4 linked regions of the Homo sapiens genome follow. The protein of the gene in region 1 purifies or fractionates together with the protein of each later gene. This does not show direct contact. Each region holds a gene or a part of one and is shown in the gene's direction. Other genes may lie near its edges.

Evidence for each region.
Region 2: the proteins of KDM4B (region 1) and PKN2 purify together in Homo sapiens (affinity purification with mass spectrometry; one large-scale study listed by BioGRID and IntAct). This does not show direct contact.
Region 3: the proteins of KDM4B (region 1) and PUS7 purify together in Homo sapiens (affinity purification with mass spectrometry; one large-scale study listed by BioGRID and IntAct). This does not show direct contact.
Region 4: the proteins of KDM4B (region 1) and KMT2C purify together in Homo sapiens (affinity purification with western blotting, with the first as the bait; one study listed by BioGRID). This does not show direct contact.

The regions. Positions count from the first base shown.
Region 1 is NC_000019.10:4,972,113-4,975,612, forward strand, and holds part of KDM4B (lysine-specific demethylase 4B), read left to right. Parts: intron 1-3,500. UniProt on the Homo sapiens protein: Histone demethylase that specifically demethylates 'Lys-9' of histone H3, thereby playing a role in histone code. Does not demethylate histone H3 'Lys-4', H3 'Lys-27', H3 'Lys-36' nor H4 'Lys-20'.
Region 2 is NC_000001.11:88,774,773-88,778,272, forward strand, and holds part of PKN2 (serine/threonine-protein kinase N2), read left to right. Parts: intron 1-3,500. UniProt on the Homo sapiens protein: PKC-related serine/threonine-protein kinase and Rho/Rac effector protein that participates in specific signal transduction responses in the cell.
Region 3 is NC_000007.14:105,519,472-105,523,444, reverse strand, and holds the start of PUS7 (pseudouridylate synthase 7 homolog), read left to right. Parts: upstream 1-1,173; 5' UTR 1,174-1,393; intron 1,394-3,973. UniProt on the Homo sapiens protein: Pseudouridylate synthase that catalyzes pseudouridylation of RNAs.
Region 4 is NC_000007.14:152,136,715-152,139,003, reverse strand, and holds part of KMT2C (histone-lysine N-methyltransferase 2C), read left to right. Parts: intron 1-99; coding exon 100-208; intron 209-2,079; coding exon 2,080-2,172; 3' UTR 2,173-2,289. UniProt on the Homo sapiens protein: Histone methyltransferase that catalyzes methyl group transfer from S-adenosyl-L-methionine to the epsilon-amino group of 'Lys-4' of histone H3 (H3K4).

The DNA.
Region 1 (3,500 bases):
GTCTCTGTTCCTGGCTTAGGATGCCGGACAGAAGAGCAGGGGCCCAGCCTGGGCTCCGTTCTCATCTGGTGGTCTTGACGACGTCTCTGGATCTCTGCCCTCTGTCCCATGCCCCACACAGGCTTCAGAGTTGGAGAGACCTGGATTCAGATCCCTCCTCTGAGGCAGTCACTTCCCCTCTCTGGGCCTTGCTTTCTTCTCTGTAAAATGGGTGTAATGGGAACACCTCCCTCCCAGGTGGTTGTGAGGATCAAAGCGGGTAAAAGGCGCTGAAGCTTGCAGGGTGCCAGGAGCTCTGAGTTCGGAGCCGGTTTATTACACAGCAAGGCCCTCTGCCCTGTCAGGGTCTCCCCACCTCTGCCCTATCCACGTTCTGGGCTGGGACATTCTGTGGCGGGGCTGTCCTGGGCACCGTAGGGTGAGTGTGAACAATATCCCTGACCACCACCCACCAGATGCTAGTAGCACCCTGTCCCCTAAGCGGTAGCAACCAAAAATGTCCCCTGGGAAGCACTGTCAACCCCGCAGTGAGAACCTTGGACTTGGCCTTCAGCCCTGCAGTAGCTCATGGTGTGCTGTGACCGTGATGGGCCTCAGCTCCCTTTCTTTCCTCCCCACTCACCCTTTAGCAGTGAGTGACTCCTATTTGCAAACTGTGTCCCGGACACACTCCTCACCTGGTTGTTCAGGTTCTCCGTGACTGTCCTTCTGCCCTTCCAGGGTGGCAGCTTCCACCTGAGAGGACAGGAGCCCCCACGGGGTCCCCTGCACGCCCTGCAATGAGGGGCAGCCCGGCATCTGTGGGGTCTTCTGGGCTGCTCTCTGGCCTCTGAGCTCCGGGTCTTCCTGGGCTGCTCTTTGGCCTCTGAGCTTTGGCAGGTCCTTGCCCAGGCTTGCTTGGCTGCCCCCAGGGGTGGCACTTCCACACCCTCCCAGTCACCATAGCCCTGACCTGTCGATTTGCCAGACAGTTTTCTTTAAGTCCATTTAAAAATGACTCACCTCTTTGATCTTGGCCTCTTCCTGAACAGTAATGTCCCCAGAGTTGTGGAACGTTAATGTGCTAGTTGCACATACTTTTATTTATTTATTTTGAGACAGAATCTCACTCTGTCACCCAGGCTGGAGTACAGTGGCTAGATCTCAGCTCACTGCAACCTCCGCCTCCCGGGTTCAAGTGATTCTCTGGCCTCAGCCTCCCGAGTAGCTGGGATTACAGGTGCCCGCCACCACACCCTGCTAACTTTTGTATTTTTAGTAGACACGGGGTTTCACCATGTTGACCAGGCTGGTCTCAAACTCCTGACCTCAAGTGATCCGCCTGCCTCGGCCTCCCAAAGTGCTGGGATTACAGGCATGAGCCACTATGCTCGGCCAAGTTGCACATACTTTTACTAATTCGCGTTCAAATGAGCTTAACCACTATATTAAAAAAAAGAAAATTTGTATCTTCCCAAATACTGAGGGGGGAGTGGATTGACGAATTGATGTTTCTTGGTTTTTGGACAAATTAATTTTCAAGCTCACTCCCTGCGTGACTGGCCTGTTCTAGGATGCTGGACTTGGTTAGATCTGGGTCCGTCTATTCCCTCCTGCTCCCTTGAGGAGCTCGGAAAATGGCCTTCCCTGTTGGGGCGGGGAACATGGGAAGTCTCTACCTCCTGCTTAGTTTTGCTGTGAACCTAAAACTGCTCTCTGAAACAAAGCATATTAAAAAAAAAAAAAAAAAAAAACTGGCTGGGTGCGGTGGCTCATGCCTGTAATCCCAGCACTTTGGGAGGCTGAGGCGGGCGGATCACCTGAGGTCAGGAGTTCGAGAACAGCCTGGCCAACATGGTGAAACCTCGTCTCTTCTAAAAATAAAAAAATTAACTGGGCGTGGCGGTGCACACCTGTAGTCCCAGCTACTTGGGAGACTGAGACAGGAGAATTGCACCGAGATCCTGCCACTGCACTCCAGCCTGGGTGACAGGGCAAGACTCCGTCTCAAAAAAATAAATAAGTGGCCGGGCGCAGTGGCTCACGCCTGTAAAGCCAGCACTTTGGGAGCCAAGGCGGGCAGATCACAAGGTCAGGAGATCGAGACCATCCTGGCTAACACCGTGAAACCCCGTCTCTACTAAAAATGCAAAAAAAATTACCCGGGCATGGTGGTGGCCGGTGCCTGTAGTCCCAGCTACTCGGGAGGCTGAGGCAGGAGAATGGTGTGAACCCGAGAGGCGGAGCTTGCAGTGAGTTGAGATCGCGCCACTGTACTCCAGCCTGGGCGACAGAGCGAGACTCCATCTCAAAAATAAATAAATAAGTAAGTAAGTAAGTAAATAAATACATAAAATAAAAAACTGGCCAGGTGTGGTGGCTCACGCCTGTAATCCCAGCACTTTGAGAGGCCGAGGCGGGAGGATCACCTGAGGTCAGGAGTTTGAGACCAGCCTGGCCAACATAGTGAAATCCCATCTCTACAAAAATACAAAAATCAGCCGGGCATGGTGGTGGGCGCCTGTAGTCCCAGCTACTCGGGATGTGGGGGCACGAGAATCTCTGGAACCTGGGAGGCAGAGGCTGCAGTGAGCCAAGATCACACCACTGCACTCCAGTCTGGGAGACAGAGCGAGACTCTGTCTCCAAAAAAAAAAAAAAGAAGGTAGTCAAAGGAGTAAAAACCAAAACAAACAAACAAACAAAAGATTTTCCCCTGCTCAGAACCTTCCGGTGACTTCCTGTTGCCCTTGGGAAAAATTCTGGGCCCTTTCGCGTGGCCCCTTCGCTCTGTCATCTGTGGCCTTGTCCTTCCTTCCTTTCCTCCCTTTCTTCCTCCTGCACCTGCTCCTTTCCTGGCACAGCCGCCTTCCCTGCCCGCCCTTCCCTGCCGCAGGACCTGTGCACTTGCTGTGCCCGCTGCCTGGTTCTCTTTCCACCCAGCCGGCTCCTTATCACTCTAGTCACTTCCCTTCCCTACTTCTCCTCCTTTGCATGTCACACGATCAGAGCTGGGTATTAGTCTGTTTGTGTATCTGTTTGTCTCATCTACTAGGGCAGGGGCTTTTTCTGGAAGGGCCGGAGAATAAATATTTTTGGCTTTGTAAGCCAGAGGTCATCTCTGTCCAGACCACTCTGCTTTGCCGTTGTAGCAAGAAAGCTCCCGTGGGCGAGTGTGCCTGTGTTTCAGTAAAACTTTATTTATGGACACAAACGTGAATTCCGTGCAATTTTTACATTATAAGACATTTTTCTTCTTTTGCTTTTTTTTTCCTCCAACGACTAAAAAATGTCAAAACCATTCTTAGACTGCAGGCTGTACAAAAACAGGTGGCGGGCAGGATTGAACCTGTGGGTTGTAGTTTGCAAATACCTGGCTAGGGTGTGAGGGCCACACTACGGAAAGCTATGGAAACCATGTCAGCCTCACGACCCCTAGAATGTACGGCAGCTCCTTAGACGTGGTGGGTGTTGAGTGGACATTCCTTGTTGAGTGAATGAATTTTTTTTTTTTTTTTTGA
Region 2 (3,500 bases), on another chromosome or scaffold:
ATCATAGCTCACTGTAACCTCAAACATCTGGGCTCAAGCAATCCTCCTGCCTCAACCTCCTGAGTAGCTAGGAGTACGGGAACGTGCCACCACACCTAGCTAATTTTTAGTTTTTTGCTAGCAATGGCGTCTCACTGTGTTGCTCAGGCTTGTCTCAAACTCCCGGCCTCAAGTCATCTTCCCACCTCAGACTTCCAAAGTGTTGGGATTATAGGCGTGAGCCACTATGCCCAGCCTCTATTCTTACTTTTCTTATTCCCTTCTTGCTCCCTTTTATGAGATAGATAGATATATATATTCTCCCACCTCAGCCTCCCTAGTAGCTGGGAGTACAGGTGCACACCACCACGCTCAGCTTATTTTATTTTTTTTGTAGAGATGGGGTTTCTCTGTGTTGCCCAGGCTGGTCTTCAACTCCTGGGCTCGAGCAATCTGTCCACCTTGGCCTCCCAAAGTGCTAGGATTACAGGCATGAGCTACTTATGCCTGGTCTTTCACTAAATCTTGAACTCCTCGCAACCACTCACCTCACTTCCTCCGTAGTTTTGCCTTTTCCACAATGGTCATACAGTTGGAATCTTAACAGTATGTAGCCTTTTCACATTGGTTTCTTTCACTTAGTAATATGCATTTAAGTTTCCTCTATGTCTTTCCATGCTTTGATAGCTCATTTTTGGTTTTGTGCTGAATAATACTCTATTGTGTGGATGTACCATAATTTATTTATTCATTCATTTACCGAAGGACTTCTTGGTTGCTTCCAGGTTTTGGCAGTTATGTATCAAGCTGTTATAAACATCCATGTGCGGGTTTATTATTTTCTTAGTGATTACCCCAATGATTATAACTAATGTCCTAAATTTATTATAATCTTATCTTTAGTAGCCTACAAAAAACTCTTTGACTGTGCCCTTGTTATATTGTCACAAACTCTCTTTATGCACCATATACCCATTAACATAGGCTATAAATATTGTTTTATGCATTAGTCTTTTAAATCATAAAGGAAACAAAAAGAAGAGTTACTTAAAATACAGAAATATTGGCTTCTGGCCAGGCGCAGTGGCTCACGCCTGTAATCTCAGCACTTTGGGAGGCCGAGGCGGGTGGATCACGAGGTCAGAAGATCGAGACCATCCTGGCTAACATGGTGAAACCTCATCTCTACTAAAAATACAAAAAAAAATTAGCCGGGCGTGGTGGCAGGCCCCTGTAGTCCCAGCTACTCAGGAGGCTGAGGCAGGAGAATGGCGTGAACCTGGGAGGCGGAGCTGGCAGCGAGCCGAGATCGTGCCACTGCACTCCAGCCTGGGTGACAGAGCGAGACTCCGTCTCAAAAAAAAAAAAAAAATACTGGCTTCTATATTTACTTATGTAGTTAATTTTACCTGCGTTTGTCTTCCTTTTTTCCTTTCTCTCTCCCTCCCTCCCCCTCCCCCTACCCCCTCCCCCTTGCCCTCCCTGACACTGCCCCCACCCCGCCCCACCCGTCACTTCTCCCATCCTTCATTTCAATCTAAAAGGCTTCTTTAGCATTTCTTATGGGCGGGTCTCCTAGTGTCTACCTCCCTTAGCTTTTGTTATCTAGGAATCTCTTTCTTTTCTTTTTTTGAATGATAGTTTGGTATATATATAGAATTCTTGGCTGGCAATTTTGTTTTTTTCCAGCACTTAAAAAAATGTCCAACTAGGCACAGTGGCTCACACCTATAATCCCAGCACTTAAGGAGGCCGAGACGGGTGGATCACTTGAGGTCAGGAGTTTGAGACCAGCCTGGCCAGCATGGTGAAACCCCATCTATACTAAGAATACAGAAATTAGCCAGGCATGATGGCGCATGCCTGTAATCCCAGTAACTCAGGAGGCTGGGGCAGGAGAATCGTTTGAACGCGGGAGGCGGAGGTTGCAGTGAGCCAAGATCATGCCACTGCACTCCAGCCTGGGTGACAGAGTAAGACTCTGTCTTAAGAAAAAAAAAAAAAGTCCTCCTGCTTCCTCCAGGCCTTTATGTTTTGTGATGAGAAATCCACTGTTAATGTTACTGAGGATCCCTTGTAAGTGATGAATTATTTTTGTCTTGTTGCTTTCAAGCTTTTCTTTGTTTTTTCACAGTTTAATTATAATGTGTCTTAGAGTGGATCTTTTTGAATTTATTCTACTTAGATTCTTTGAGCTTGATGTGTAGGTTCTTGTCTTTCATCAGATTTGGGAAGTTTCCAATCATTTCTTCAAATGTTCTTTCTTCTCCCTCTGAGACTTTGATTTTTGCCTACATTGGTGTGCTTTATGGTATTTCTCTTAGACTCTGATTTTCTTCATTATTTTTTCTTTCTGCTCTTAAGACTAGACAAGTGCAATTGATCTACCTTCAAATTGGCTCACTTTTTCTTCTGCCTGCTCAAATCTTGTATTGAACCTCTCTAGCAAATTTTTTCATTTTTGTTATACTTTTCAATTCCAGAATTTCTGTTTGGTTCTTTTTTATAATTTTTAAATCCATATTGATGTTCTCTATTTGTAGACACATCACTTTTCTTGTTTCCCCTAGATATTTGTCCATGGTTTCTTTTAGATTTTTGAGCATCTTAATTTAGTAAGTCCAACATGTCTTGACTTCCCCAGGGTCAGTTTCTGTTAATTTCTTTTTTCTGTGAACTGACCGTATTCTGTTACTGTGCTTGCTTCATAATTCAAGTACTTCATTTCCTTAGTATACTTACTCACAAATCAGATTTTACTCTTTCCAAAGATTTCATTTTTCTGCTATATGTTGAATGTAGTTGTTTGCCTAGTAACTTTTATAATCTATTTTGTAGAGACTATTCTTTCTCATGTATTACCCCTGAGGTGTCTATTTCATTAATATATTGTACACCAAAATAAAATTCTAAGCCACCCAACTAAATGAATGGACCCCCTCCTCTCAGCCAATGGCATTCTAAAGTAAACCTGAAACACTAGTTCAGGTCGTGCTGGGAATGGGTGGTTTGGACATGCCTCATTATGCCTTCCTCCCTTTGGAATTCAGGTACTGCAGACCAGCATTAACATCAAAACAGAGACCTTAAGACTGACTGAACAGACTCTTTCAGTAGATAAGAAACATTTACAGTCTCTTCTTTCTGAAGCCTGCTATCTGGAGGTTTCATCTACAAAATGAGAACCTGGGTCTCCACAACCCCTTATCTTAACAGCACTCTTACAATACTCCCTTGTATTGATTCCAGGTCTTTAGATAAACTCTTTCTACCAGTTGCCAATCAGAAGATCTCTGAATCCACCCGTGACCTGAAAATCCCTACTTCGAGTTGTCCATCTTTTCTGGACCCAACTAATGTACCTTTTACATGTATTGATAGATGGCTTATGTCTCCCTAAAATGTACAAAACCAAGCTGTAACCCAACCACCTTGGGCACGTGTTGTCAGGACCTCCTGAGGCTGTGTCACGTATATCCTTAATCTTGGCAAAATAAACTTCTAAATTGAGACCTGTCTCA
Region 3 (3,973 bases), on another chromosome or scaffold:
GAGTTCAAGGCCAACAGGCAAAAACCCCGTCAAAAAAATTAGTCTGGCATGATGTCAAGCACTCGTAGGCCCAGCTACTCGGGAGGCTGATGCAGGAGAATCGCTTGAACCCTGCAACAGAGTGAGACTCTCTCTCAAACAAAATAAAACAAAACGGAAAAACTATTAGAGGCTGGGAGCGGTGGCTCACGCCTGTAATCTCAACACAGAGGCGGAGGCGGGCGGATCACGAAGTCAAGAGTTCGAGACCAGCCTGGCCAACATAGTGAAACCCCGTACTCTACTAAAAATACAAAAAATAAGCCGGGCATGGTGGCGTGCGCCAGTAATCCCAGCTACTCGGGAGGCTGAGGCAGGAGAATCGCTTGAACCCGGGTGGCGGAGGTTGCGGTGAGCAGCGATCGCGCCATTGCACTCCAGCCTGGGCGACAGAGCAAGACTCCGTCTCAAAAAACAAACAAACAAACAAAAAGCAAAAAAACTATTAGAGCCTGGGCAACATAGTGAAATCTTGTCTCTACCCCCCACCCCCAAAAAAATTAGCCTGGGTGCGGTGGGATGCACCTGTAGTCCCAGCTACTTGGGATACTGAAGTGGGAGGATTGCTTGAGCCTGGGAGGTCGAGGCTGCAGTGAACTGTGTTCACGCCACCGCACTCCAGCCTGTGCGACAGAGCGAGACTCTGTCAAAACCAAACCAAACCAAAACAAAAAAAACCTATGATCCGGTTTCTTGAAGCAGATCCTATGGCAAGCCATCAAGCCAGAGCGGTAAGAAGTAGGAAGATGGTGCTTTTAGATCCACTACATTCCCAGGATCAAATGTAGAACAATATTTAGTCCCTAAAGTGATTCTCTTTCCATTATTGTCAACTGCGTGGTCGGTGCAACGTGAAAGGGCCACAACTATGTGAAGGAAACACTTAGAATATAACACCAAAGGAGGCAATCGCTGCCTTAGACTTCCTAAAGATCTAAAGAACTCTTAGATGCTTGGTGAAATCGCTCTCTGCCGCTGGTGCGACTCAGGCGCGGTCGCGAGGAAGGTCCAGGGTGAACGCGCGTAGGCTGGGAGTCCGCGTTGGGGCGCTCCCTGGCTTGCAGGCCGCTCCGAGTGGGTGGGCCGGGGGCGGGGCCGGCGGCAGGGAGCGGACTCCGCCCCCGGGGCGGGTCCAGTCGGGCCGCGGCGCGTCGCTGCGCCGCACGTGTGCGAGCCCGGCCGCCGGTGAGTCGGCTGGAGCGCATCTGGTCCTCCGCGCGGAAAGCGCTGCTTTTGCCTGGCCGCCCTAGCCGCTGGCTCATCCAAGTGGCCTTCGCCGCTCTCTTGCGTCCCAACCAGAGCGCTGGCCACCTCGCCGCCCAGCTCACGCCGCGCCCGCGCTCCCAGGCTCCGGGTAAGTGCGCGGCCTCCCCGCGGCCGCCGGGGCTCCTCGGCCTGGCCCTGGCCCCAGCCCCAGCCCCAGGGCCCCGCCCCAAGAGGCAGTGCGGACTGGGAAGGCGGACTGGGAAGGCGGCCCCGCAGTGGTCAGAGCCCGCGGCGCCTCCATTATGGATCGTGCCAGCGGGAGCACGGTTGGAACCCAGTGGGTCCTGCGCTTCGGCGGTGCAGGCGCCGCTCTCCGCTCCCCGCTCCCCGCTCCGCTCTGCCCGGCCAGTCGTCCGGAGGCGCCGCGCCCGAGCGCTCCCCTCCTCCCCGCGCGGCGCTGTCCCCCGGGGGCCCCCTTCCCACTCCTCCCTTTCTTTGCCCCGGACGCTCCCTAAACTCTTGTCCCTCCGTCAGAGGAACACTGGCCCTGAAGCCCTTCACGGTGCCACTGCTTCGCCGCGCCTGCCTTCTGTGGGTCCAGCCCACGTGTTCCACCCCTGTGTCCTGCGTCGCCGCTCACTGGGAGCCTACTAGGCGCCACGCGGGCTCTGGGGACTGCTTGCTTTGTATGCATTTCCCAGAGTAGGAGTGGACGGGCTGCAGACTCAGAGTGCTTTCTCCAGCCCTCAAGCTGGGTGAATGCTTAACGAGTGGATGGAGGTGCTGCTGTGCAAGCTGAAATTCGAGTCCTCCTCGTCAGCCCTGCGCAGAGGTGTTTAGAAGCACACCTTCGTTGCCTGCCGAGTAGGGTTGGCAAAGAGTTTAGTTTTTAAAATATTTGGTCCCGTCAGACTACTTTTTTTTTCCATTCCAAAAATAAAGGGTTACTAAGGTTCCCTCCCCCCCATCCCCAAGCCTCTAATCATCTATGAAATGACTATGCCCCATTGGCCTGGGGGAGCCTCGACTATTGAGGGATCTGTCGAAAATCAGACTGTACAACACTATTGAAAAGGGGTTGGTTAGGCAATTGTTAGGTTCAAACATTAGGAAAGTAGCCAACAGTACGTACTTAACAACTCCTTGTGAACATGTTTTTGGTTTTTTTATTTTTATTTTTTTAATTTTTTTGAGACAGAATTTTGCTCTTGTTGCCCAGGCTGGAGTGCAGTTGCGTGATCATCGCTCACTGCAGCCTTGAACTCCTGGGCTCAAGCAATCCTCTCACCTCAGCCTCCCAAGTAGCTGGGACTATAGGCATGTGCCACCACACAGGGTCTCGCTGTGTTGCCCAGCCTGGCCTCAAACTCCTGACCTTAAGCAATCCTCCTGCTTTGACCTCCCAAAGTGCTGGAATTACAGGCTTGAGCAACCACACTCGGCCTTGAACATATCTTTGTTTTTTGATTTATTTTTTTTAGACGGAGTCTCACTCCATCACCCAGGCTGGAGTGCAATGGCACGATCTTGGCTCACTGCAACCTCAGCCTCCTGGGTTCAAGCGATTCTCCTGCCTCAGCCTCCGGAGTAGCTGGGATTACATGTGCACGCCACCATGCCCAGCTAATTTTTGTATTTTTATTTATTTATTTATTTATTTATTTATTTATTTATTTATTTTGAGACAGTCTCGCTCTGTCGCCCACATGTATTGCAGAGGCAGCACCTCCATCCACTCGTTAAGCATTCACCCAGCTTGAGGGCTGGAGATGTATTGCAGTGGCGCGATCTCGGCTCACTGCAGGCTCCGCCTCCCGGGTTCACGCCATTCTCCTGCCTCAGCCTCCCGAGTAGCTGGGACTACAGGCGCCCGCCACCACGCCCGGCTAATTTTTTATATTTTTAGTAGAGGCGGGGTTTCACTGTGTTAGCCAGGATGGTCTCGATTTCCTGACCTCATGATCTGCCCGCCTCTGCCTCCCAAAGTGCTGGGATTACAGGCGTGAGCCACCGCGCCCCGCCTAATTTTTGTATTTTTAGTAGAGACGGGGTTTCACCATGTTGGCCAGGCTGGTCTTGAACTTCAGACTTCAGGTGATCCACCCGCCTCAGCCTTCCGAAGTGCTGGGATTACAGGCGTGTGCCATCACACCCGGCCTTGAACGTGTCTTTTGATAGAGGCAGGGGCATGCATGTACTGTATTAATGAAGCAGCGTTTTTCCTTACCTAGGAGAGAGAGAGAACAATCCAGCTGGTCATACTGTCGACTAAGTTTGCTCCGGTTTCAGGTCCTTTACACGTGCTGTTCGGGCTGCCTGGAGCTCTCCTCACACACATCTTTTCCTGTCTGGTTCTTCCTTGTCTTTGCTCAGAAGTCTCCTCCTTAGACGAGGCATCACTGAAGAACACCCCTCTTACTCTCAGCCCCTTACCCTGTTTTAATTCTTTGGAGCTCGCATGTCCTGAGATTTATTTTGTTCTCAGATATATTCTCAAATACATTGTAAGCTACATGAGGACAGGAAATGGTATTACCCTTTTCTTCCAGTACCTACAACAATGCCAGACACATAGGACACTTGCTCAGTAAATATTTGCAGAATGAATGACCCTCATAGACTTAATGATTTTGCATATTAGAATGCAGTGTGTCTGCCGGGCCTGGTGACATCATGCCTGTAATCCCAGCACTCTGGGAGGCCGAGGCAGGCAGCTCGTTTGAGGTCA
Region 4 (2,289 bases), on another chromosome or scaffold:
AAATTTAATTAGCAAAAACTGCTTTATCAATAAATGGGAAGTTTTTAAAGCTGCTTCTAGCTGTTTTACAATACAGTTTTCTGACATGGTGGCTTGCAGGTATATCAACCATTCGTGTGCACCTAATTGTGTGGCTGAAGTGGTGACTTTTGAGAGAGGACACAAAATTATCATCAGCTCCAGTCGGAGAATCCAGAAAGGAGAAGAGGTAAGAGTGTGAGAGATTGCATCTGCCATGTTGTTCAGATCCTGGGCGAATAGTTCCCTCCTCACACAGGTCACTTACTCACTTGTTTCCCAATTCTTTGTTGTGATAAAAACTCTGTCCATAATAGGCCAGATGTTCCCACCCTGCAGTATCTCACCCTTCAGGCACTCCAGTTCACCTTCCTCCACATGGCAGCTCTGTGAGCATTTGCTGTCACCTCTCCCTTCCCTTCTGTGCCACGGGTTCAGCATCCCCATGGCACCCAGGTGGTATCATTTCTGTGTGCCATAGGATCCTTCTTTATCCCCTTAACCTGGACACAGTTTGGCAGTGTCCCCTCTGAAGAGCATCCCCGTCCTTCTCCAAGGGGGCCGTGGCTCCTGAGATGGCACTGTTGGGCTGTGGGCGGCAAATCTGGGCCGCCGTGCTGCTGAGGATTGTGTGCTCACGCTGGCGATCAGTGTGTGCTTAACCAAGTGCCCACATCGCCACATTCTTCAGCAGTTCAGGTGTGGGTTGTTGTCTTCAAAATGCCGAGTGCCAAGCTTGCTGTTTGTCTCCGTGCTCTCAGAGGTGACTCTGGTCCGGCGGCTCACCCATTGGGATTATTTTTGGCCTTAATTGCTGCATTTGCTTCCCACCTTGGTCTTTCCCACTGTGATTCAGGTACCTTGGTTCTGGAATTGGCATTTCCTGGAAAGCTGTCACTGAGCAGCAGGCTTGGTTTCTGTAGGAAACGTCCCGCATTTGGGGAGTGAGGCACCTGAGTGACTTGACTTTGTTGGTGCTCCTCTCCCTTCGTGAACATAGCCATGGGATTCGTGGGATTCTATCTGTATTTTGGGTCTTTGTGGAATCTCCTTTCTTAGTCAAGAATAAGGATCCGACTAGACCCAAGGCCCGTTATACATCTCAAAGTAACGTGTAAATAAGACAGTGTGTGGGAGCCCTGGCACAGTGCCAGTAACCAATGGCTACCATGGTGGTCAGAAGAGACTCAGCCCAGGGCCACCTGCCTCCTTCCTACTTGAGTATTCTTGAGTAAATAGTTTAATATGAGCCCCTATTTTATCTTCTGCAAGATAGAGAAAATGACTTCCTTACCAGGCTCTTGGAAGGACTCAGCAGATACCTGAAAGAAAGCAGTGGAATCATTGCCAAGAACAGCTGCTCAATAAACACTGGTTTCCTTCCTTTCTGTGTAGAAGGTCTTTCCAGCTAGCGTCTAGAATCATTTCACTCAGAAGAGACCTAGAAATTCCTGGGCCTCCCCTTCATTTTGCAGCATCGGCTCTCTCTGGGGTGGTGGGGGTTGCAGGGCCGCGCACTGAGGCTTGTACCGTGGGACTCACGCAGACTCCCACCTACCTTGATTGGTCTGAGATGTTAATTTGGTGACCTCTAAATAGAAAGACATCCTTTCAGTCTTGAGTGAGGAAAAATGAAGGAGGGAAAACAGAGTTAGCTGGCAGTTCATCTCACCCAGAATTGCATGCCCCATTCAGTAAATCAGGGGAGGTGAAAGGCTTCTGGGTTTTAGGGAGAGGGCTAGGAAAGCAGTTGCCCTTCCAGTCCCCTCCATCCACTTGCAGGGACAGCATTATGAGAAGTCACAGAAATACAGCTTTCTCTGGTCAGGCTCCCGTTCTCAGATCTCGCTGTTTAAAAATACTGCCTCCCTCATTTCCTCTGTGCAAGCACAATGCCTCTTTTCAGGGTTCCCCCAGGGTCCCATGGAACCTCAATAAATCAGGTCTTCCTTAATTTACGTCTGTTTCGTTTGCTGGTTTTAAAATGCAAGGGAGATGGAGGCAGAAACGCTATTGCCTTCCTTGCTGTCCTTTCTTACCCTGTGTCTTTGCCGTGGGCAGCTCTGCTATGACTATAAGTTTGACTTTGAAGATGACCAGCACAAGATTCCGTGTCACTGTGGAGCTGTGAACTGCCGGAAGTGGATGAACTGAAATGCATTCCTTGCTAGCTCAGCGGGCGGCTTGTCCCTAGGAAGAGGCGATTCAACACACCATTGGAATTTTGCAGACAGAAAGAGATTTTTGTTTTCTGTTTTATGACTTTTTGAA